Homo sapiens: one gene and its partners. The protein of the gene in region 1 purifies or fractionates together with the protein of each later gene. This does not show direct contact. Each region holds a gene or a part of one and is shown on either strand. Other genes may lie near its edges. The genes, in order: UBE4B, ZRANB2, HDLBP, USP34, PDS5B, VPS4B and FAM114A2.

Region 1 (3,500 bases):
GCCTGTTCAGCGGCTTGACTGGCTCTTCCATCTTCTGCCTAGGTTGCTTCTTTGCGGTTGTGGTTGCCGAAATCCTTAAGTCCTGGCTGTGGGCGGGAGCTGCAGAGACTCTCTTACTTAGGGGCTTTCTTTAGCTTCTCAGTCTTTGCAGAAGATGATGTAAGTATAGTGGCTACTTGTACTTTGCTGCCCTTTTATTCAGATTCTTTCCCAAATGTGCATTATATGTTGACTGCATTTTTTCCTTCTCTTTCCAGGTTAAAGTGGTTGAAAAATACTTCTCAGGGCCTGCCATTACCCTGGAAAACACTCGTGTGGTTAGCCAATCATTGCAGCATTACTTAGAGCTCGGAAGGGTAAGTGTTCAGAAAACAAATCCAGAGGAAGTATCAAAGATGAGCTCCAGATACAGAGCTTTTATTTTGTAGACTGGACTATGCCCAGTAGACAAACGGCTAACAAAAGCCAATTCGATCTTACATAAAAAAGATAAACTATAAGTAAGTAGCCTGTGTCTTGAATAACAGGTTGTAACAACAGCAGTATGCTGCCTTTGTATGTAGCATCACTGGGAACTGGTCCTAAGCTTAGTGGCCCGGCTCCTCCTCCAGCTGGCCCTTAGGCATTTACACTGTGAGGGTGAGCAAGGATTGTTAGTTTGCACACACCCTCACTGACTTGCTTATCCCAAATGCAGATTAATATGTCTTCAATTCTCAAACTTAAAGGCAGAGAAGGGCCGGGTGTGATGGCTCATGCCTGTAATCCCAACACTTTGGGAGGCCGAGTGGGGTGGATCACCTGAGGTCAGGAGTTTGAGAACAGCCTGGCCAACATGACGAAACCCCGTCTCTACTAAAAATACAAAAATTAGCCAGGCATGGCAGCGCGTGCCTGTAATCCCAGCTACCTAGCTACTCGGGAGGCTGAGGCACAAGGATCACTTGAACCCAGGAGGTGGAGGTTGCAGTGAGCCAAGATCACGCCACTGCACATCAGCCTGGGCGACAGAGCAAGACTCCATCTCAAAAAAAAGAAACAGGCAAAGAAGTTACAGGCTTGGGTAACTAAGGTAATTTTGATCATGGGAAAGAAGTAACAAAGCCTATTTTATTAAAACTGTAACTGCCGGCTGGGCGTGTTGGCTAATGCCTGTAATCCCAACACTTTGGGAGGCTGAGATGGGCTGATCACGAGGTCAGGAAGTCATCCTGGCCAACATGGTGAAACCTCGTCACTGCTAAAAATACAAAAATTGGCCAAGGCAGGTGGATCACGAGGTCAGCAGTTTGAGACCAGCCTGACCAACATGGTGAAACCCCATCTCTACTAAAATACAAAAAAAATTAGCTGGGCATGGTGGCGGGTGCCTGTAATCCCAGCGACTTGGGAGGCTGAGGCAGGAGAATCGCTTGAAACCGGGAGGCGGAGGTTGCACTGAGCCGAGATGTGCCACTGCACTTTAGCCTGGGCAATAAGAGCAAAACTCCGTCTCAAAAAAAAAAACAACAAAAATGCAAAAACTAGCTGGGTGTGGCGGCGTGTGCCTGTAATCCCAACTACTCGGGAGGCTGAGGCAGGAGAATGGCTTGAACCTGGGAGGCGCAGGTTGCAGTGAGCTGAGATTGCACCACTGCACTCCAGCCTGGCAACAGAGCTAGACTCTGTCTCAAAAAAAAACAAAAAACTGTAACTGCCTACCTCCCCCACTCCATATTCTGCTTTCATGCTCATTACTTTGACATAGTTGGATGTGGATATTTCTTATATTCTTTCACTCAGGCTCTTCTAAAATGAGTAGAAGTGGGAGAGGAGAGAACGTGGGAAGTAGGCTAGCTGTTCGTGAAGTCAAAAAGGAATCATGTGCAAAATAGTTTTAATTTGTTTCTTCTTTTTAAAAATAAATTTCAGCAAGAGCTTTTTAAGATTCTGCATAGTATTTTGTTAAATGGCGAAACCCGTGAGGCTGCTCTCAGTTACATGGCGGCTGTCGTCAATGCCAATATGAAGAAAGCACAGATGCAGGTAGGATTCCTACAGACTGCTTTTCGCTGTTTGTCAAATTCATTCATCTGACCCAGATTTAGTCAGCACCTACCAGGCACTGTTCTAGGAGTGGGGGTACAGTATTGAACAAGGTAGACGAGCTTCCTGCTTTTGTGGAGCCCATGTTCCACAGAATAAACAAGTAGACATATAAATACATGATTTTAGACAGTTGTATAATCAGTGAAGAAAATAGAGCAAAGTAAATGACATGAGAAGAACTGTAGGTACCAGAAGGAAGATCTGAAGGTGATTTTTGATTGGGTGGCAGGAAAGGCCTCCCTGAGGAGGTGACATTTGTTTCATAGGAAGGAGCCAGCCATTGTAGTGGCTGAGAAAAGAGCTATCCAATGTGGAAACGAAGCAGCTTTGGTACAAGCCCAGCACGCAGGCTTTTGTGGCTGGAGAAGAGTGAACAGGAGGGAATGTCGGGTCCTGGAGTTAGTGGATAGGCAGGGCGCCATCGGGTTAGGTTTACGTGATCAGAACTGTCATGGGAGGGTTTTCAGCAGGGAAACCACAAAAGCTGCTATGTAGACGGACCAAAACAGAAGGGGGCAGCCAGGAACAGACCCAAGGGGGCAGCCAGGAACAGACCCAAGAAGGCAGCTGCAAGGGCGTGAGTGCTTCGGTCCGGGTGAGACAGGCCAGTGGCTGCAGCTGCTTTGCCAGAGGAGAAAAGGGCATCCTTCCTTGACTAGTAATAAATAATGAATGAATGATGTGATGTGTATACTCAGAAGCAAAAATCATGTAGAGAGAAGAGCACAGATCTTGTGATTTCTGATCGTGGTTCCACCGTTTACTAACTGCGGGACCTTAGACAGTGACTCCTCTGTGCCTCCATTTCCTCATCTGCTAAGCTGCGGTACTACTGGTACTGGGTTTATTATATATAAAGCTGTTAGAGTGGTGCCTGGTACACAGTGATCACTCAACCAATATTAACTATCATTCTTATCATTGTTGTATTATTATTTTTTTCTTAACAGAGGTAATCAAGTTACATTGTTATATTGCTAATGCAGGAGCATGCTGATGCTGTCACCTAGAGAAACAATGTCACATGATAAGAAGTGGAGCAACTTGTTTTGATGCTCTTGAGGGAAATAAAGAGGAGAAAGAGGCCGGGCATGGTGGCTCACGCCTGTAATCTCAGCACTTTGGGAGGCCGAGGTGGGAGGATCACTTGAGCCCAGGCATTTGAGACCAGCCCTGGCGACATAATGAGACCCCATCTCTACAAAATATACAAAAGTCATCTGGGCATGGTGGCTGGTGCATGCCTATAGTTTCAGCTACTTGGGAGGCTGAGGCAAGAGGATCACTTGAGCCAGGGAGGTCGAGACCAGCCTGGGCAACATAGGGAGACCCTGTCTCTACAAAAAAAATAAAAAATTAGCCAGTATAGTGGCATAGACCTGTAGACCCAGTTATTCAGGAGGCTGAAGTGG
Region 2 (3,500 bases), about 61 Mb from region 1:
GTCTAATTATAGGTAGGTTTCTTAATGATTTTTATTTTCAGGCTTAGATTTAATTCTTCATTGATTTTTCCAACTTCCATCTTTTCTCTATGCAGATGAATCCTATGTGTATGAAAGAGGTCTAAATCAAAAAAGTATTAAATAAATTTCTCTTTTTGTTTGTTTGTATTTTTTGTTTTTGAGATGAGGTCCCACTCAGTCACCCAGGCTGGAGTGCAGTGGGGCGATCTCAGTTCACTGTAACCTCTACCTCCCAGGCTCAAGCAATCCTCTCACTTCAGCCTCCTTAGTAACTGGGACCACAGGCCCATGCCACCATGCCTGGCTCATTTTTTTATATTTTTGGTAGAGACAGGGTTTTACCATGTTGCCCAGGATGGCCTCGAACACCTGAGCTCAAGCATTCTGCCTGCCTTGGCCTCCCAAAGTGCTGGGATTACAGGCGAGGCATGGGCCACTATTCCTGACCCTAGAGTCTTAAATAAATTTCTGATCCTCAGGATTATAAATTTGTATTGGAAAAGTTTCCAGCTACAGATTTGGTCACTGGATTTGGTATGCTTTGGAATTCAGTGCTTGAACTGAGACCTCAAAAAAATAAATTAATATTATTTATAGGGTATAACCATACTCTTTAAGGTATATTCAGAGACTGAGAAATTAGTGGAGCTGTTAATTTAAAGTTATATTTTTTCATAAGACATCAGAATTTCTATACAGGTTCAGTATCACTTACCTGAAATGTTTGTGGGTTCAGCATCCCTAATCTGAAAATCTGAAATGCTCCTGTGAGCGTTTCTGTTGAGTGTCATGTCCTCTCTCAAAAAGTTTTAGATTTTGGAACGTTTTTGGATTTTGGATTTGTGGATTAGTGATACTCGACCTGTGGTTATAATTTGTCATTTACTTCTCAAAATGACAGAGGCACTTTTCATACTATATAAATTTTGCTTCTCTGCTTAAATGGTTCAGTCCGTTGTTGGAACCCACATTTACTCTTCAGGCCACTGTACATTTTCTTTGTTTACATTACCACTTAATAAACATTTCTTTGACAGTGGTTTCATCCTAGTTTTTATTTTAAAATTGTAAAATATCTAAAAATTTGATATTCATCTATATTATAGCCTACTAATTTAGTATTTTTCACTTCTAAAGTTGCAGCAATGTGAATTGGGCCAGAAGATCAGAGTGTAATATGTGTAATACTCCAAAGTATGCTAAATTAGAAGAAAGAACAGGTATGATAAAACCACATTGTAACTAAATGATTTTTTTTAAAGCACTAAATATTGAAACGATAATTGTATCACCTTCGAGTAAGAGCCACAGTAAGTGAGGATTCTGTTTATTCTGCCCTGAATGTTTGTTACTGGGATTTTTTTCCCCCCATACACACATACAAATCTTTTGTTTCACAATTTATAAAATAACAGTGTTAGGGACCTTTATCCTAACAAGGAGGGACATAAGAATACTTTCAGAAATATTCTCCTCCTCTCCCTTTCACTGGTTTGCATGTTTGTTATTAGTAATGATATAATGATACCATTTTTAAATTCTTTTGATAGCCTGCTGTGACTTAAAGGGCAAAGCCACACCATTTAAAGTGTTCTTCTAAAGCTTTGGCAGTAATTCTGAAACTTAAGCTATGTGCTAGATTATCTGAAAAACTTTTTCAAATATCGATTGCAAAATGCAGAACTGTTAAAGTTATTTGGCGGTGGGTTTCCAACATCTGCAGGTTTTTTGGATGGTGTTTGATAATCATTGGCCTAAATAATAGTTGATCATTGGCTTTGTATGTTACTGGTGAAATGAAAATGTTTACCTAATAGCATATAGTTTTTCCATTATCACCAATTAGCCCAACCACATTATCTGTTTACTTAAAATCTGATTTTGTCTTTCAACTGCTTATATGTCACATGATCAAAGGATTCCTTCTATATCTAGTCACCCTGTCAGACTTAGGCTTGGTGAACTGCTTCCCTGTTTTCTTTGCCTCTCTAACTTTAGGCCGTTTTCATTGTCTGTTTAGTTTCTAGGGATCAGAGGGCCACTGTTCAATCTTTTCGACCTAGCTCTTCCAGACTTCAACAGAAATTCTACTTTTATCCCCCCCCACCCCTTTTTTAAAACTTACATTCTCATATGTGAGAACATTATAACATAATGTCCTTGATCCCCCCTTCCCCAGCCCAACCGCCACTTTCAACCCTCAAATCCTGCCTTATTCTTAGGAAGTGATTTTGCCTTTCCACCGATTGGGTAAGTTAAGGCCTTCTGACAAGGATCTCGTTTTTTTCTTCCCTCACCTAAGGTATGCACCGTACCTCCTTCACCGCCCCCACCAACCCCCGTTTGATTGATTGTTTATTCTGTCTCCTTTGCAGGTTTCTCTTCTTTTGGCCACTGATGTTGGGATTCTTCGCAGCCATCCCTGGCCCTCTTTCTTTCCTCTATTTTCATGGTGTTTTCTTCTAAGCCCAAAGTTTAAGTAACTTTGCCATGATAACCCAAGTTTATGTCTCCAGCTCAGACTTCTTTGACCCATATATCCAGCTGCCTATTCAACATTGCCATGCAAATGTCAAACTCATTATATTCAAACTGAATTTGTGATTTTACCCCTGGGACCTGACCCTCTTCCAATGATCTCTTTCTCATGATTAGTACCACTCACCATACATTTATTACATAAGCTGGAAATCTAGATGTCCTTCTTAGCCTAAATAGCCCTTTCTTGATATCTCCCATACCCCAAAAATTCTTTTCCATTACCACCCTAGGCAAAGAATTACTATGTTTTGTGGAAAAATAGCCACCTAGCTGGTTTCTACATGTTTTTATTTCCAAATTTAAAATCCTTTTTTAAAAAACCCATTTTGATTGCTTTTAGGATAAAGTCTAAAATCTTTTTAACAGTTTCAAAACTTAAAAAAACTTTGACCTATTTCCTGACTCCTTTATAGTTTCATTATCACAAGAACTATAGTTTAACAGAGAAGTAAGCAAATTTTATTTGATAACTTCTCACTTTTCTTATTGTCATTTTTCAGTCATTCTGGTGTCTTGAACCTTTCTCACTTCCCTTGCTACAAGTATTTGTCTTTGCTGGTAACAGTTGAAGGTGTGAAATAACTTACTCTGTTGCTTTCCGCTTTCTTTTGGCTATTTGTAATAAAGCAGTGCAGGGTTTGGGGAGCATTTCCTAAGCATGAGACAGGATATGAATAAAAGAGAATGTGATTCACTACCTCTGAAAGATTGCTGCTGGCTTATCCTGCATAATTCCATCAAATTGTTCAGTAATTTACTTCTCTGTTTCAGGATTTAGGATTATTTTTGTTTTTGTCAGCTTTTTTTTAAAAAAAAAACCATTAAAGATAATGGCATAAAAACAAACTTAGTACATTGTGATTTTTATTCTTTTGGATTCTTTCCTTAGAATATGTTCTCAGGAGTTGAATTAATTGTTCAGGGTGTAGAATCACAGA
Region 3 (3,500 bases), on another chromosome or scaffold:
ATAGCCGAGGTAGAGGTCTCCATCCCTGCCAAGCTGCACAACTCCCTCATTGGCACCAAGGGCCGTCTGATCCGCTCCATCATGGAGGAGTGCGGCGGGGTCCACATTCACTTTCCCGTGGAAGGTTCAGGAAGCGACACCGTTGTTATCAGGGGCCCTTCCTCGGATGTGGAGAAGGCCAAGAAGCAGCTCCTGCATCTGGCGGAGGAGAAGGTGAGCATGGGGAGGGAGCGTGACTCTTGGCAGGAAGCCTGGTCCTCAGTACAGTGTTCTCGCTTCTCACTGTGGAAACCCCTGAATGCCCTTCCTTTGTGGCGGGTCAGAAAACAGCTCTATAATGTACTGTTTATGCGTCTTTGTTTTTGCTGTTACTGGAGGGCCTTTCCAGGTCCAAACGCTCACATATGCAATATATAAAAGTTGGTCTTTGGCTTATTAGTTTTGGGGTGCTTTTGTTTTTTAAATATGATTTACAGTAAAATTGGCCATTCTTCAGGTATAGTTGAGTTTTAAGTAACATGCAGTCATGTGACCACAATCATCAAAATTCATTTTCCATCACCCCTAAAGATTGCCCATGGAATTGCTGTTGTCCTTGTGTCAAAACCCATCTGTGGGTATGTTTCCGGGCTCTTCTGGTGACACCAGGTTTATGGGAAGTCTGGAAATCAGTAGTGTGAGCCCTCTTAACTTTGGCTGTTCTACACCCCTTGCTGATCAGCCTGTCAATTTGTAGGAAAAAAGCACTTTCACGTTTTGATTGGGATTGTGTGAAATTTGAAGATGAGACTGGCGAGGATTGACAGCTCAGCAGTTTTGACTTTTGCAGGCATTTCTCCATTTTTTTTAGGTCTGTGATTCTTTATTGGTGTTTTATAATTTTTAGCACATTTTTATGTTCGACTTAACAGATCTAACTACTGTTACTCTTTTAGTGCTATTGTAAATGGCACTTTTTTTCCATTTCCAGTTGTTAGCACATGGAAGTGCCTGTGGTTTTTGTATGTTGACCTTCACGAGGCTGCTAAATAAAGCTCATGTATATTAGCGCCAGTCACTGTTTTGTGGATTTTTTTTTTTTTTTTTTTTTTTTTTTTTTTTTTTTTGAGACGGAGTCTTGCTCTGTCGCCCAGGCTGGAGTGTAGTGGCGCAATCTCGCCTCACTGCAAGCTCCGCCTCCTGGGTTCACGCCATTCTCCTGCCTCAGCCTCCCGAGTAGCTGGGACCACAGGCGCCCGACACCTCACCCAGCTAATTTTTTGTATTTTTAGTAGAGATGGGGTTTCACAGTGTTAGCTAGGATGGTCTCGATCTCCTGACCTCGTGATCCGCCCGCCTCGGCCTCCCAAAGTGCTGGGATTACAGGCGTGAGCCACTGCGCCCGGCCCACTGTTTTGTGGATCCTTATTTTATATGTCACAATCACGTGGTCTGTGGACAGTTACATTTCTCTCTAATCTGGAGCCTTGTATTTCTTGTCTTTTTTGTTGTTGTTATTAGATTGATGTTTTTGTCTTTGTGTTTAACCAGCCTTGCGTTTCTGGGGTAATCCCTGCTTGGTTTGGTAGGTTGTCTTTGGCCATATTGCTAGATTGCATTTGCCTAATTGATTGCCTAATGTTTGACTAATGCTGCTATTTGTGGATGTCTTTGAAAAGTAGCAGAGTCTCTAGGTGGTATTTGGTGAAACCTGCACTTAAAAGGTAGCAAAGTTGTTATTTAATATTTTTGTGCTAGCATGTTTTTCTTTGGTATTTTTGCTTGCGGGCCAGATCTTGGGTCCGGAGAAAGGCAAGAGCTCCCCGTGTGGACCTGAGTCCCGTGGAGCAGCGCCCTTCTCGGGGCCCCTGCGTGGGTCTGCCAGAAGCACTGGTGTCCACAAGCAGTGTCCGGGGCCTTTCCAGGACCCTCGTTTTCTTACTGCCACACAAGGGCGTCGCACTACACGAGGCCTCTGAGGACCGGTCTCTAACTGTAGCCTTGGTTGGCTTGTGTCCCTCTGAGCTTGAGCTTGAGCCTGGGGAGTGGCTGGTTTTGTGGAGGCTGATCTGTAGCACTCGTGGGAAGAAAGGGAGCCTGGCCCAGATTTGTGTGTGCTTGGTCTGGAAGCAGGTAGAAGAGTGGGAGCATGGTGCACACCTCTTGGGCAGCTTGCTTCCTGCTCTGCTGGGCACACCCCACGCTCCCCAGGACGTGCACTCCGCCAACATATCGTCCGGCGCGTTGCTCCCACCTCCCCCTGTGCAGATCAAAAATGGCTTGGAGAAGTTTGGTCAGTGCTTGTAAGTGGCAGGACCAGGGTTCTAAGCCTGTGTGTTCATCCCACCAGCATCTGGTTGTTGTGGAAGAGAAGTAGGTGTGCAGTCTGGGTATTCATCTGTTTATTCAGTGAGGTGTGCTAGCCCCATTTTGGGGGTATTGGTGCAACATCAGGACACTGGTGACAATGTAAGGGGAGCCCGAGCTTGCTGTCCTACAGACCCTCTTGTCTTCCTCACTGTGGTCCAGGCACGTGGTGTCAGGCTAACACAGTGGGATTGGTTTCTGCAGCAAACCAAGAGTTTCACTGTTGACATCCGCGCCAAGCCAGAATACCACAAATTCCTCATCGGCAAGGGGGGCGGCAAAATTCGCAAGGTGCGCGACAGCACTGGAGCACGTGTCATCTTCCCTGCGGCTGAGGACAAGGACCAGGACCTGATCACCATCATTGGAAAGGAGGACGCCGTCCGAGAGGCACAGAAGGAGCTGGAGGCCTTGATCCAAAACCTGGTAGGGAGCGGGCCTCGGCGGCCGACTCTGCTGGGGCCGTGATGGGGTGGCTTATCTTCCATCTCTTCTTAACACTGCAGGATAATGTGGTGGAAGACTCCATGCTGGTGGACCCCAAGCACCACCGCCACTTCGTCATCCGCAGAGGCCAGGTCTTGCGGGAGATTGCTGAAGAGTATGGCGGGGTGATGGTCAGCTTCCCACGCTCTGGCACACAGAGCGACAAAGTCACCCTCAAGGGCGCCAAGGACTGTGTGGAGGCAGCCAAGAAACGCATTCAGGAGATCATTGAGGACCTGGTAGGCACTTGGGTGCTCGGGGAGGGGTTCTCACCCCCCAGTGGCCACTCACCGAAGCCGTGTATGAGTGTTCGCTCCACCCTGTAGGGAGGTGACTCCCTCATACAGCCCTGGAAGGCTTCAGAAGGGGCTTTCTGGTGCTCGCTCTTCTTTCCTCAGCCTGTCTGGCCTCCTTCCTGATAGTTGGTGAGAATTCTGCCTGCGAGAAGCACTTAAAAAAAAAAAGAGAGAGAGAAGGAGAAGAGGAGAGGGGAGAGAGAGAGAGGAAAGAAAGCAAGAGAAAGAAAGAAAATGCATTCTGTATAAGGGATCAGGAAAAATGAAAATGCAGTCTAAGGGGTCAGCTCTCTTCTCCCCTCTGTGAAGGAAAGAAAATCGATTTGAGGGCATCCACGTGAATCCATGGGAAGTCATGAGAAGACGTGGTCT
Region 4 (3,500 bases), on another chromosome or scaffold:
TCTTAAACATCTTGACTTTTAATTGAATCTTACATCTTCTTTAGAAATCATGAGCAAATGTTAACATATTTAGAGATTTTATTTTTGGCTACTTAGCATAAAGCTTTGGTAACTAGGTCAAGGAATCAAATGATAATGTCATTCTGTTAAGTCAATGTTAATATAAATTAGAAGTAAAAACAAAAAATGTATTTTATATAGGGTCACCTGCAGCTAGTCCTCAAAGCAGTGATAATAGCGATACACATCAAAGTGGAGGTAGTGACATTGAAATGGATGAGCAACTTATTAATAGAACCAAACATGTGCAACAACGACTTTCAGACACAGAGGTATGAAAATAGGTTTTTCTTCTTTTATAGGCATTTTTGGCTTTCTGGCGTGTTTATCATTTGAATTGGGTATATATACATAATTCATGTTTGGGCTTGTCCTCTCCTTTACGTAATATTTTTGACATCCTTTGAGTTTTTAATTCCATTTTGTATTGTTCAAAGGAGTATAACAAGACTGGCAGCCTTTTTAAAAAGTACAGTTTATTAATGTTGGTTACCTTTTTTCTTACTGGTTTAAATATTTATTTAAATCTATTTGTTTCAAAATACAGGAATCCATGCAGGGAAGTTCTGACGAAACTGCCAACAGTGGTGAAGATGGAAGCAGTGGTCCTGGTAGCAGTAGTGGGCATAGTGATGGATCTAGCAATGAGGTTAATTCTAGCCACGCAAGCCAGTCAGCTGGGAGCCCTGGCAGTGAGGTACAGTCAGAAGACATTGCAGATATTGAAGCCCTCAAAGAGGAAGATGAAGACGATGATCATGGTCATAATCCTCCCAAAAGCAGTTGTGGTACAGATCTTCGGAATAGAAAGTTAGAGAGTCAAGCAGGCATTTGCCTGGGGGACTCCCAAGGCATGTCAGAAAGAAATGGGACAAGCAGCGGAACAGGAAAGGACCTGGTTTTTAACACTGAATCATTGCCATCAGTAGATAATCGAATGCGAATGCTGGATGCTTGTTCACACTCTGAAGACCCAGAACATGATATTTCAGGGGAAATGAATGCTACTCATATAGCACAAGGGTCTCAGGAGTCTTGTATCACACGAACTGGGGACTTCCTTGGGGAGACTATTGGGAATGAATTATTTAATTGTCGACAATTTATTGGTCCACAGCATCACCACCACCACCACCACCATCACCACCACCACGATGGGTAAGCCTACTTCAAAATAAATATTCAGTTCATATTTCCTTTAGGGAAGTATTATATCCTATATTCAATTTGCAATTTATTCTGTATTAGTGCTATTCATTAGTAGTATAGTGCAAACTATAAATGTAAGCTACAAATAGATAATTTCAAGTTTTCTATTGGGCACATTTAAAAACACAAAATGAAGCAGGTTGTTGGCCATGCACAGTGGCTCACACCTATAATCCCAGCACTTTGGGAGGCCGAGGCAGGTGGATCACTTGAGGTCAGGAGTTTGAGACCAGCCTGAACAACATGGTGAAACCCCATCTCTACTAAAAATAGAAAAATTAGCCGGGCATGGTGGTGCACGCCTGTAATCCCAGCTACTTGGGAGGCTGAGGCAGGAGAATCACTTGAACCTGGGAGGTGGAGGTTGCAGTGAGCTGAGATCACACCACTGCACTCCATCCTGGGCAACAGAGTGAGACTCAAAAGCAAAACGTTGAACAACAACAATAAAAAACCAGGTTGTTAATTTTAATCATGTTAAACCAATAATATCCACAATGCCATTTACACATGTAATAAGTATAAAAATTACTAAGGTATTTCCTTCCTTTTTTTCTTACCAAGTCTTCAATATTTAGTGCATATTTTATACTTATAGCACTTTTCAATTTAGACCAGCCACCCTTTAATTCTTTAAAATATTTATTGATTTATTTGTTTTCTTCTTCTTTTTTTCTTTGAGACAGGGTCTCGCTCTGTTGCCCAGGCCGGAGTGCAGTGGCACGATCTAGGCTCACTGCAACCTCCACTTCCCAGGCTCAAACAATTCTTGTGCCTCAGCCTCCTGAGTAGCTGGAATTACAAGCACCCACCACCATGCCTGGCTACTTTTTTAGTATTTTTAGTAGAGATGGGGTTTCACCGTGTTGACCAGGCTGATCTTGAACTCCTGACCTCAGATGATCTGCCCGCCTCGGCCTCCCAAAGTGCTGGGATCACAGGTGTGAGCCACCAGGCCCGGCCTTTTTTTTTTTTTTTTTTTTTTTTGAGTTGGAATCTCACTCTGTCACCCAGGCTGGAGTGCAGTGGCACAATCTTGGCTCACTGCAACCTCCGTCTCCCAGGTTCAAGCGATTCTTCTGCTTCAGCCTACTGAGCAGCTGGGACTACAGGTGCCCCCCACCCCCCACCCATGCCTGGCTAATTTTTGTATTTTTAGTAGGATGGGGTTTCACCATATTGGCCAGGCTGGTCTTGAACTCCTGACCTTATGATTCGGCCTGCCAAAGTGCTAGGATTGCAGGCGTGAGCCACTGCACCTGGCCTTTTTTTTTTTTTTTTTTTTTTTTTTAAGAGATAGGGTCTCACTTTGTCACCTAGGCTGTAGTGCAGTGATGTGATCATAGCTCACCGTAGTCTCAAACTCTTGGGCTCAAGCAATCCTCCTGCCTCAGCTTTCTGAGCACTTGAGACTTAAGGTGTGTGTTGCCACTCCTAGCTAATTCTTAATTTTTTTTTTTTTTTTTTATAGAGACAGAGTATTGCTATGTTGCCCAGGCTGGTCTTGAACCCCAGACCTCAGTGCTTTTGCCGCAGCCTCCCAAAGCTCTGGGATTACAGGCGTAAGCTACTTATACCCAGCCTAGACCTACCATGTTTTATGTGTGTAATGGTCACATATGGCTAGTTGGTATTATATTGGATAACACAGGATTAGATTTTCAACATCTTGTAATAAATGCCTAAAAAAGATATGAGTGCTTATGGAAACTTTCCTAAATTGTGATTAAGAAAGGGAAATTTTACACATCTAATTTTAGGGTATTTAAAAGGGTAAGCTCCAGCATAAAACTTTTTGGTTATCTGTGAAATATACCAAATAATGTGATTCTGTCACTTAGTGGTGGTATTATGATGGGCAAAATAATTAATTTTTCTTCATTTTTTCAATCTATAAAATGGGAACAATAATCCTAGTGCTTTGGAGGCTAAGGCAGGAGGATCGTTTGAGGCCAGGAGCTTGAGATCAGCCTGAGCAACTTAGTGGGGCCCTGTCTCTACAAAAATATTAAAAACACTAGCCAGGCATGGTATCACACACCTGTAGTTCTAGATAATTGGGAGGCTGAGGTGGAAGGATCGCTTGAGTCCAGGAGATCAAGACTGCAGTGAGTGGTGATTGCACCACTACACTTCAGCCTGGGCAATAGAATGAGACTCTGTCTCTAAAAATAAAATGGGCACAATAGTATCTATCTCATGGTTTTATTGTGAGGATTTCCTGGGCTAAC
Region 5 (3,500 bases), on another chromosome or scaffold:
ATCAACTATAACTTTGTTCCTTTCTGTCTCTATAATACATAGGCAAAACACTTTCATTTTGTATTGAATAGAGTTTTACGTAATTAAGTTTAAAACTGAGCTACTGAAGCTTTCTTTTAATTTTTCCCTTTTTAAGCAAAGACAATGCTTATAATTGTCAATCTTGACTTTTTCTCTCTATTATTGAATATTCTTAACTGTTCATATTTAATAAGGCAGTTATATTCTCTTGAAGAGTTCCCATCAGGACTGTAGTCAGTCTTGAGTATCTGAGGCCTCACTTGATCCGTGGCCCCACTATTCCTTTGACAGTCTTTAACTCCCTGTCATAGCTGAGGGTTAAGATAACTTCATCCTTTCTACCATTTATGTTTCCCCTTTAACCCGCCTCCTTGGAAATCTGGTGAGATTTTAAGAAGGGATCTTATAAGCTCATATCTGCATTGTTGACCTGTTTTTATATGTTTGTATGACATATTCTTTTTCCCTGCTGGTTTGTAACTGTTTCTTTTTTTTTTTTCTTCCTGGAGTTATATTATCTAGGTTTGTTATATTTATATTTAGAATTATTGTATCTATATTTAACAAAGGATGATTTTCTTCTATATTTCTTTTTTCCTTTTTTTTTTTTTTAGATGTCTTTGGTTTGTTCTGGAAATATTAATGGCTAAAAATGAAAATAACAGTCACGCTTTTATCAGAAAGATGGTAGAAAATATTAAACAAACAAAAGATGCCCAAGGACCAGATGATGCAAAAATGAATGAAGTATGTAATTCTTTGTAAATAATTATGGTTCCATATTGATTTAAAAATTTAGGTGTAAAGTATGAAACTTCTGTAGTATTTATAGATAGCATCAAATAATTTTTTCTATTAGTAATTAGAATTACGTAGAATTAGCAGTAATTTTATTACAAGTAAATGAGCAAAACCAGTAGTGTAAGCTAAGATGCTTACACAGACTGTTGCTTTCATTAGTTTGCTATTCAGACTGGATTCATGTTCTGAAATTATTCCTAGTTTACAGAGTCTAGATTGCCAGCTTAAGTATCTGTGTTTTTAAAAATATACTATTGCAGAAACTGTACACTGTGTGTGATGTTGCCATGAATATCATCATGTCAAAGAGTACTACATACAGTTTGGAATCTCCTAAAGACCCGGTACTACCAGCTCGTTTCTTCACTCAACCTGACAAGGTAGTTACTTTACAATTTGTTTGTGTAAGTTGAAATAAAATGTATTCTCAGCACTGGATTGTAGGAAGATCAGGAAGGATCATGGAAAAATTGCTGTGAGTCTTAAGAATGTGATTTAAGATCAGAACCAGAATATGAGTCAAACTGGAGGACACACATAAGGTTCAGATATTAGGATGATCTGGTGTTTATGTTCAGTTTTAAGACAGTCTTAGAGCGCAGGTAGAAATGTGATCAAAGCATGTGAATCTGTGAATTAATGGCCATTGTTCAAAATGGGAAGGAGAGTGCTGATAGAGATACAGTCTGAAGTTAAAAGCCCTTTATTGGGATTTATAATTGGTATGAGGAAACAAGCAGAGAACAGACACTAGAACATGCCTAAGACCCTGGGAATACTACAAGAGTGTTACCAAACCATGCTCCAAAAACTCGAGTGTGATATAAGATGTAAAAAGTGTTTCCCACAGTCCCTCTTACTCCTTTATAATTTATTTATTTAATTCCTCGTAATTTAGCTGAACATATTGAGTAACAGAGTCTGGAAATAACCACTATCCTCTTTTTGCTTTTAAAGCAAAATGCCAGTTAAGACCTTACCAGTGTATAGAGATTTGGAACAGGCCTGTAGGATTGCTCAGTAGCTAAAAGGGCTGTCACGTTGGTGTGAGCAGAGTAATAGGAATATGTACATGTGGTCTTTCCCCTGAAGGGTGTTATTAAAGAAGCATGTGTTTTCTGATGCACTCTTAGAGCTCTAACATGTTAGAGCTCAAATATGTTTTGTTAATATTAGAGTTGGCATGAGGTTGGTTTAACCTTATTACAGTAGTTAAAATCAGTGACTGAAATTTTGTGTTTCATATGATAATTTAGTTTAAATAAAAAAACTGCTGTTTGCTTTGTTGGCTTTTGAACCACCTGTAGATAGTGTTTTAATATTCACTGACTACTTCTTTTTCTCTTGGTTGTAGAATTTCAGTAACACCAAAAATTATCTGCCTCCTGAAATGAAATCATTTTTCACTCCTGGAAAAGTATGTTTTGAGAATCATTTTAATTTTTATGTGGTAGCTTATTTTAGAGTGATTATTGGCAAAATTGTGTTATTTTGTATTTCTTCAAAAATTTATATTTTCAAGCTGGAAAATATAAGAATTAACGATCTTACATTTACTAGTAAGAAATAATTATATTTACTAGATATACACAAGCTGAAATACACAAATTACTTTTTAGCTTGTAATAAAGTCCTAGGAGACCTGATTCTTAGACTTCTTAGGTTAATATCAAGATAAAAAAAATCTTAAAAGGCTTTTTTTTTTGAGACGGAGTCTCTGTTGCCCAGGCTGGAGTGCAGTGGCGCATCTCGGCTCACTGCAAGCTCCGCCTCCTGGGTTCAAGTCATTCTCCTGCCTCAGCCTCCTGAGTAGCTGGGACTACAGGTGCCTGCCACCACGCCTGGCTAATTTTTTGTATTTTTAGTAGAGACGGGGTTTCACTGTGTTAGCCAGGATGGTCTCGATCTCCTGACCTCGTGATACACCCGCCTTGGCCTCCCAAAGTGCTGGGATTACAGGCGTGAGCCACTGCACCCGGCCAAAAAAGCATATTCTTATGTCTTTCCATGGCAAGAGTCTAATTATCTATTTTCATTGTTGATTATTCATTTCATTTGTTCTCACTTTTTATGTAAGCCGTTTTCTCCAGATAACTAAGAAATTCAACTGTTATGCTGTCTGTATAGTTTTTAATTTGTTCAAGTGATATTTAGTTTATACTTATTACTTTGCTTAAGGATAGACACATTTTTCATGATTTGTAAGTAAATACTTTGAGAGAGATGTTATTTATGGTTCTTTACACGTAACTTTCTTTTGGCTTTAACCAAATAAAAAGAGATGTGCATTTCTCATTTCAGCCTAAAACAACCAATGTTCTAGGAGCTGTTAACAAGCCACTTTCATCAGCAGGCAAGCAATCTCAGACCAAATCATCACGAATGGAAACTGTAAGCAATGCAAGCAGCAGCTCAAATCCAAGCTCTCCTGGAAGAATAAAGGGGAGGTAAGTGCAAAAGAAATGCCACAATTTACATTTAAGGATTCCAGCAAGGCTATGAGATCTGAAATAATATAATCCAAAATGTTTCATGTCAGTAAATGGAAAGTAATGTATTACTTAATTTTTCCATTTAACATTGGTAGTCACAAGTTCATACTTATTTGCTTGCTCATTTTGGATGGGTGCTCTGTCTTAGTCTTTCATTCTTTAGCTTGTTGGGGGTAATCTGTGTTA
Region 6 (3,500 bases), on another chromosome or scaffold:
AAACCAAGGTAGGCAGATTGCCTGAGCTCAGGAGTTCAAAACCACCCTGGGCAACGTGGTGAAACCCTGTCTCTACTAAAATCCAAAAAAATTACCTGGCCATGGTGGCGCACACCTGTCTGTAGTCCCAGCTACTCGGGAAGCTGAGGTGGGAGAATCGCTTGAGCCCAGGAGGCGGAGGTTGCAGTGAGCCAAGATTGTGCCACTGCACTCCAGCTTGGGCAACAGAGTGAGACTCCATCTCAAAAAAAAATATATATATATATATATATGTGTGTGTGTGTGTATATATGTATATGTGTATATGTATATATGTATACACACACACATCTATCTATCTAATTTTTAAGTTGAAAATGAAACTTCAGTTCTAGGAAAGGTATACGGACTCTTCACTTTTCACTCTTCACAGTTCTGTATTACATTCATTTATTTTGTATGGTAAAAATTAGCACTTCAGTTTTTGCCACTTTTATCCCATTCACTTGATGATTTGCGCCAGCATTCTAGCTTACCATCCAGTACCAAGAAAGGAAATGTGCAGGGTATTTTTGAAAAATTGCCTTATTCTGCACCCATCTCTAGAGGCAACGGAAACTTTAAATTCTTTTCATTGTCACAGAGAGTTACCTGGAGAAAAAACAGTCTGCTCAGACCACTTAAATTATCCCTCATCGTTGCTTCTCTGTCTCCAAATACCGAAATTCTAAGAAAGCAAGCAAAATTATTGTTAATGAAACATAGTGTTTATTCTTTATAATATAGGATTGTTCTGGATGTATTCATTAAAGTGGACATTTTGTGTAATATATATCCTATAAGATTGTGAGGTAATTCTGTTTTGAATGTAGAGAATTACTGTGTCATCTCTACTCCTGTTTTATATTGTTAATCATTAGTCCCTTGATCAAGAGTTCAGAGTACAATTTTGTGGGAAACTGTAACCCTGTAGGACCTCTTTTTATTTCATGAATTCCAGACATAGGAACACTGTGGCCAAAATAACCCAAAAATGCACGAAAGATTCAGCCACTTCAAACTGGCTCCCAGGCTATTTTGATTTTATTTGTTTGTTTTTAATGTGTTCTGGATATTATCCCTTTAACCTAAATATATATGTTTAACCTTGGCACATACAGGCCCACTTAACTTAGTATCTGTTTCTTCTTGGAAATATCCTAATTTTCAATTAAATATATTCTTGATGTAATTTCTCTTTTAAGATTTGAGAAACGAATTTATATTCCCTTGCCGGAACCCCATGCCCGAGCAGCAATGTTTAAACTGCACCTAGGGACCACTCAGAACAGTCTCACGGAAGCAGACTTTCGGGAACTTGGGAGGAAAACAGATGGTTATTCAGGGGCAGATATAAGTATCATTGTACGTGATGCCCTTATGCAGCCTGTTAGGAAAGTACAGTCAGCTACTCATTTTAAAAAGGTAAGTCATTTTTATCTATCCTTTCCTATCTTTTTTTTTTTTTTTTGAGACAGTCTCACTCTGTTGCCCAGGCTGGAGTGCAGTGGCACTATCTGGGCTTGCTGCAACCTCCGCCTCCCGGGTTCAAGCAATTCTCATGCCTTAGCCTCCTGAGTAGCTGGAATTACAGGCGTGTGCCACCACGCCTGGCTAATTTTTTGTATTTTTAGTAGAGACAGGATTTCACCATGTTGGCCAGGCTGGTCTCGAACTCCTGACTCCAGGTGATCCACCCACCTCGGCCTCCCAAAGGCGTGAGCCACTGCGCCTGGCCCTTTTCCTGTATTTTTAAAATCAAGTTTCAAGACCGTCATTGGTTTGTCTTCAAAGAATTTGGGAGGATTTCAGTGTTGTATAATAATACCATAAGTGGGTTTACATAATAGACATATTTCTGTGTCACTGAAACAAGTTCTTTAATAAAGTTTATTTATTGGCCATTTTTGGCTGGGTGCAGTGCCCCATACCTGTAATCCCAGCACTTTAGGAGGCCGAGGTGGGCAGATCTCTTGAGCTCAGGAGAGACCAGCCTCAGGCAACATGGCAAAACCCCATCTCTGTAAAAAATACAAAAATTAGCTGGATGTGGTGGCACACTCCTGTAGTCCCAGCTACTTGGGAGGCTGAAGTGGGAGAATCTCTTGAGCCCAGGAGGTGGAGGTTGCAGTGAGCCGAGATTGCACCAGTGTACTCCAGCCTGGGTGACACAGTGAGACCCTGTCTTAAAAAAAGAAAAGGCCTTATTAATCATCCTAATGTGTTTTAAATTTTCCTATGAAATGATTTTTGAAGTATTTGTGTATTATTTTGATATAAGTATAGAAACTTAAATGTACAGATGTAAGGCTGCTTCTGACACATCTAGAATATTTTTGAGTAGAATCTGGTGCATTTATACCTCATAAAGTAAAAATAATAATAGCTAATATCTTTTAAATATTCACATGCCTGGCACTGTGTTCTGTCTTTTATCTTACTATTTCATTTGGTCTTCACAAAAATCAGCAAGAGAGGTACATGTAGCCAGCCACCTAATGGTGGTTAGTCTTGGACGTAGGTGCTAACACAGTAGCTAGAGTGGGACAGACATGTGATTTGCCTGGAGGTGAGGTGTGTTTCCAAATCTGAAATCTCAGCCATTCTGCTATCCTGCCCCTCCTGTGTTCTGTTTTGTCTGCAAGAACAAGTTAAGCATCTGTGGCTGAGATAAAGTTTTATAAGAAGGCTGTGGTCTTGAGATACCCAGTTTGAGTAACAATGAACTAGGTAATCTGGACCAACCCTTTTGCTGTGAACAACAGTATCCAGTATTACTCATGAACATACATGTGAAAAACTATTAGCAAACCTAATCTCATAATGTATGTCAAGACTAATATGACTAAGTCACATACGTATATTTATCATGTACCATAATAAGATTTTTTTAAGTTAACAAGCTTGAATTAAAATCTGAATTTGAAGCCTGGCACCATTTACTTGTTATACCTTTTTGAGCAAATTCTATTACTTCTTTAAAGCTCATTTTTATCATTTCTAAAATGGGGATGTGATAATGCTATTTTGAAGTCCTTTCCAATAATGAAGTGATATAATACTCATAAAACACCAGTCGTGGTACTTCAGATGCGTAGGGAATGTTACTCATCCACCCTTCTTCAGCCATTTCATTACTGAAGTACTGTTAAGTTTATGCCACAGCCATTATGTTTTTTCTTAAATTCTCTTTGCCATTTAGAAACTATAAATGCATAGGAACTCAGTCCTTTCCTACTGAGAGTTTGTCACTCAATTCTGCATATTACTGCCAGGGTGAGCTCACATGACGCTGAAGCCAGGTCCTTGTTAGTGGGATGAAGGTGACACAGCCAGATGAGTTTTATCTCTGCAGCTGGGGATCACCAGCTGCAGCAGACCTCTCAGCGGCTCCATCCTTTACTTCTTTTAAAGCTGATTATTTCAGTTAACAAGAAGAAGATTCCCTGTTTATTTTTTGCATTTACTAGTATTTTATTTCT
Region 7 (3,500 bases), on another chromosome or scaffold:
TTAGTTATTAGTTACTGGGTGCTAATTTTATGCCAGGCACCATGCTAAGGGATTTACATGTATCATTTCTAATTTTTACAACAACTCCAAAAGTAAGTGATTAGTCCATCTTTAATAATAGTTACCTAAAGTCTTGTGTGTGCCAGATTTTATTTAAAGTCTTTCAAGCAATGGGAACATATCAGTGAACAAGAAAAGTCCCAGTTTTCATGGATTTCAACTTACTTGCTAAATTAAGGGGGAGACTATATACATATACATATATACACATACACACATATGTATACATATACACACATATATATTCATATACATGTAAGTCCTACTTGGTGATATAAGCTAAGACAATAAAGCAGAGTAAAAGGACAGAGAATGGTGGAAGTTGCTATTTTAGACTTTGTGGTGAAGGAAGGCTTTTCTAAAAAGGTGGCATTTGAGTAGACTTGAATTCAGAGAGGGAGTGAACCCCATTTCAAAGAACATTCCAAGTAGCAGAAATAGCCTCTTTTCCGCAGAACAGGCTCCTTTTAGGGTTGTGAGTCTCTCATCCTTAAGGAAGTTCAAGAAGACAAATTAGCCCCCTATTATGGGGTGCTGTAGTGGGATGGTGATGGTGCAAGTAAAGAGGAAGTCTGCAGAAGACTGACAGCCCCTCCCAGTTCTAATAATGGGCACTCTTATACATTTGTTTCCAATGAAAATTCTCATTATTTTAATCAGGACATTTGCTTAGAAACTACTGGGCTTTTTCTTCCCTACCTATGATTATCTATACTATTTTTGAAAAATTTTTGTACAAATCAGCAATAAAATGAGAAAAAAAGAATGGGTTCAGGACACTCAGTCAGACCTGGGGCTAAATCCCAGGCCATACAGCACAGACAGATTACTTAACTCCTCCAGTTTGCATTTCCTCATGATTAAAACTGGACTAATTACTTACTTTTGGAGGTATAAAAATTAGAAATTATACATGCAAATCCCTTAGCATGGCACTTGGAATGGTATAAAATTAGCACTCAATAATAACTATTATTAAGAACTGAGGTTCTTAGAACTCTTCTCTGTTTTCACTTATACCAAATTCCATTCCTATTAAAACTTATCTGTAAAGAAATAGTCTTCAGAGCATGAGTTGGTTAATAAAAAGGGCATATTTATAATATTGATTTATCATGGTTCAATGAAAAGAAAAAAACAACCAAAATGAACAAACCATCTAATATGTGGATGGGTGTGACGTGAATGGTTTCTTGAGAGAGACGTTTATAAAACTTTGGAAACAGGCCAAGAAAACTCCTGCAATTTGCATCATTTAGAGGAATTCTCATTACACTTACTGGGAAAGAGTTTGGCTCCTTTCTATGGCTGTCACTTCCTGCTTCCTGCCATGCAGAACCAATGCAGCTGTTTTGTGGAATAGTTCAATTGAGCAGGCAGTCAGTTCAGCCAGGCTCCGGATTGCAAACGCATGGATATCCTGGATGGAAAAACAAAACAAAGCATAGCAAAACAAAACATTTGGTGGAAAGATACCACCTTACTTCTCTCATACTACAGGATTTGTAGCAGAGACTAATAGTTGCCTTCCAATAAAGAGTGTCTTCTTCTTCCACAGTAGTGATATAATTTTACAGCTGGGCTCCCCTGAAGTCAGGTGTGACGAAGTAACTAAGTTTTGGCCAAATGATTTAGATAACAAGTGTCAGGCAGCAGTTTCTGGGAACCTTCCTCATGACAAAACACACGCGCATCCTTTCTCTCTTTTTTTCTTCACTCCTCCTTTAATCTTATAGTCTGGATCTAAGATGCTACAATCCTAGATCACAAGGTTGAAATTACGGACAGCAGTGTAAAAATAGGAGCCTGGGTCCCTGATTGTGACACATTTCAAATCTACTAAAACAAACAAAAAAGGCTTAGTTGCTTTGGCTACCTCTATTGAATTTTTGTTGACTTGCTCAGTATTTTCTGCTTCCGACTGTTTTTCTCCTTCTTCATTCTCTGCTAATGGCTTGGTCAGAGACTTCCTGATCCATTCGTGGGCGGTATTTCTTGCCTAAATAAGAAAAATATTGGCCATCAACAATTCAATTCAGTTTACCAAAATTACTGTGCACCTACCAGGAACACAATAGCATCCTAGAAGTAAGGGCTCCTGTTCTTACCTGAACGTACCATCTAGCTTTTCAGTCCTTATCCTACTAGTCTCAGCAATACTTATCACTGTGGTCCATCATTCCTTTTCAAAATTCTCTAATTGGTAGTATTTTTTTTTTTTTTTTGAGATGGAATTTCGCTCTTGTTGCCCAGGCTGGAGTGCAATGGCACAATCTTGGCTCACTGCAACCTCTGCCTCCTGGGTCCAAGCGATTCTCCTGCCTTAGCCTCCCGAGTAGCTGGGATTACAGGCGCCCACCACCACGCCCAGCTAATTTTTGTATTTTTAGTAGAGACGGGGTTTCGCCAGGTTGACCAAGCTGGTCTCGAACTCCTGACCTCAGGTGATCCCCCTGCCTCAGCCTCCCAAAGTGCTGGGATTACAGGCATGAGCCACTGCGCCCGGCCTCTAATCAGCTTTTTAAAAAACCAAGGTATAATTTACATAAAGTGCACAAATCTTCAGAGTATGGCTTAAGAAATGTTTTTATGTGTATATGCCTACGAAACCGTGATCAAGATATAGAATATTTCCTCATCCCTAGAAGGTCCCTTCATGTCCCTTCCTAGCCAATACTATTCAAACCATGTCCCCCTCCTCCTGCCCAAAGACAAACCCTCTTCTGCTCACTATAAATAATTTTTCCTAATCTTAAAATGCATAAAAATAGAAATATAAGTTCATTCTAATTTGTGTCTGGCTTAAGCACAACATAATGTCTGTTAGATTTATCCATGTTGCTGCATGTATTAGTTCATTCATATTAACTGCTGTGTAGTATTTCATTTTATATACAGTCATGCACCACATAATGATGTTTGGGTCAACAGCAGACCACATATATAATGGTGGTCCTGTAAGACTGTAATACCATATTTTTACTGTACCTTTTCTATACCATTGTGTTGCAACTGCCTACAGTATTCAGTACTGTAACATGCTGTACAGTTTTGTACAGGAGCAATAGGTTAAACGATATAGCCTAGGTGTGTAACAGGCTACATCAGCTAGGTTTGTGTAAGTACACTCTCTGATATTCGCCCAATGACAAAACTGCCTAATGATGCAGTTCTCATAACATATCCTCATCATTAAGCAATGCATGATTGTATATATCACAATTTATCCATTCTCCTGATAATGAATCTAGTTTTCTTTGGTTTTTGTAACCCCAACTTTCTTCTGTTCTCCTCTGACCTTTATGACCATTTCTCCTCAGTATCTTTTATATATTGATCCTAACTGGCCAGTCTCTTAAACGCCAATATTATTTGGAGGTCTAGCCTTCACTCTTTACTCGTCTCATCCTATTCCCTCTCCATCCATCCTATGCCAGTGG

The links.
Region 2: the proteins of UBE4B (region 1) and ZRANB2 fractionate together in Homo sapiens (co-fractionation; one large-scale study listed by BioGRID). This does not show direct contact.
Region 3: the proteins of UBE4B (region 1) and HDLBP fractionate together in Homo sapiens (co-fractionation; one large-scale study listed by BioGRID). This does not show direct contact.
Region 4: the proteins of UBE4B (region 1) and USP34 fractionate together in Homo sapiens (co-fractionation; one large-scale study listed by BioGRID). This does not show direct contact.
Region 5: the proteins of UBE4B (region 1) and PDS5B fractionate together in Homo sapiens (co-fractionation; one large-scale study listed by BioGRID). This does not show direct contact.
Region 6: the proteins of UBE4B (region 1) and VPS4B fractionate together in Homo sapiens (co-fractionation; one large-scale study listed by BioGRID). This does not show direct contact.
Region 7: the proteins of UBE4B (region 1) and FAM114A2 fractionate together in Homo sapiens (co-fractionation; one large-scale study listed by BioGRID). This does not show direct contact.

The regions. Positions count from the first base shown.
Region 1 is NC_000001.11:10,130,458-10,133,957, forward strand, and holds part of UBE4B (ubiquitin conjugation factor E4 B), read left to right. Parts: intron 1-42; coding exon 43-159; intron 160-257; coding exon 258-356; intron 357-1,911; coding exon 1,912-2,025; intron 2,026-3,500. UniProt on the Homo sapiens protein: Ubiquitin-protein ligase that probably functions as an E3 ligase in conjunction with specific E1 and E2 ligases. May also function as an E4 ligase mediating the assembly of polyubiquitin chains on substrates ubiquitinated by another E3 ubiquitin ligase.
Region 2 is NC_000001.11:71,074,536-71,078,035, reverse strand, and holds part of ZRANB2 (zinc finger Ran-binding domain-containing protein 2), read left to right. Parts: intron 1-1,158; coding exon 1,159-1,241; intron 1,242-3,500. UniProt on the Homo sapiens protein: Splice factor required for alternative splicing of TRA2B/SFRS10 transcripts. Binds to ssRNA containing the consensus sequence 5'-AGGUAA-3'. May interfere with constitutive 5'-splice site selection.
Region 3 is NC_000002.12:241,239,173-241,242,672, reverse strand, and holds part of HDLBP (vigilin), read left to right. Parts: coding exon 1-213; intron 214-2,364; exon of another isoform or gene 2,365-2,550; coding exon 2,551-2,772; exon of another isoform or gene 2,773-2,852; coding exon 2,853-3,071; exon of another isoform or gene 3,072-3,171; coding exon of another isoform or gene 3,172-3,282; intron 3,283-3,500. UniProt on the Homo sapiens protein: Appears to play a role in cell sterol metabolism. It may function to protect cells from over-accumulation of cholesterol.
Region 4 is NC_000002.12:61,345,588-61,349,087, reverse strand, and holds part of USP34 (ubiquitin carboxyl-terminal hydrolase 34), read left to right. Parts: intron 1-201; coding exon 202-332; intron 333-607; coding exon 608-1,218; intron 1,219-3,500. UniProt on the Homo sapiens protein: Ubiquitin hydrolase that can remove conjugated ubiquitin from AXIN1 and AXIN2, thereby acting as a regulator of Wnt signaling pathway.
Region 5 is NC_000013.11:32,757,452-32,760,951, forward strand, and holds part of PDS5B (sister chromatid cohesion protein PDS5 homolog B), read left to right. Parts: intron 1-635; coding exon 636-768; intron 769-1,082; coding exon 1,083-1,202; intron 1,203-2,176; coding exon 2,177-2,239; intron 2,240-3,123; coding exon 3,124-3,269; intron 3,270-3,500. UniProt on the Homo sapiens protein: Regulator of sister chromatid cohesion in mitosis which may stabilize cohesin complex association with chromatin. May couple sister chromatid cohesion during mitosis to DNA replication.
Region 6 is NC_000018.10:63,394,977-63,398,476, reverse strand, and holds part of VPS4B (vacuolar protein sorting-associated protein 4B), read left to right. Parts: intron 1-1,223; coding exon 1,224-1,443; intron 1,444-3,500.
Region 7 is NC_000005.10:154,000,911-154,004,410, forward strand, and holds part of FAM114A2 (protein FAM114A2), read right to left. Parts: intron 2,060-3,500; coding exon 1,937-2,059; intron 1,481-1,936; coding exon 1,341-1,480; intron 1-1,340.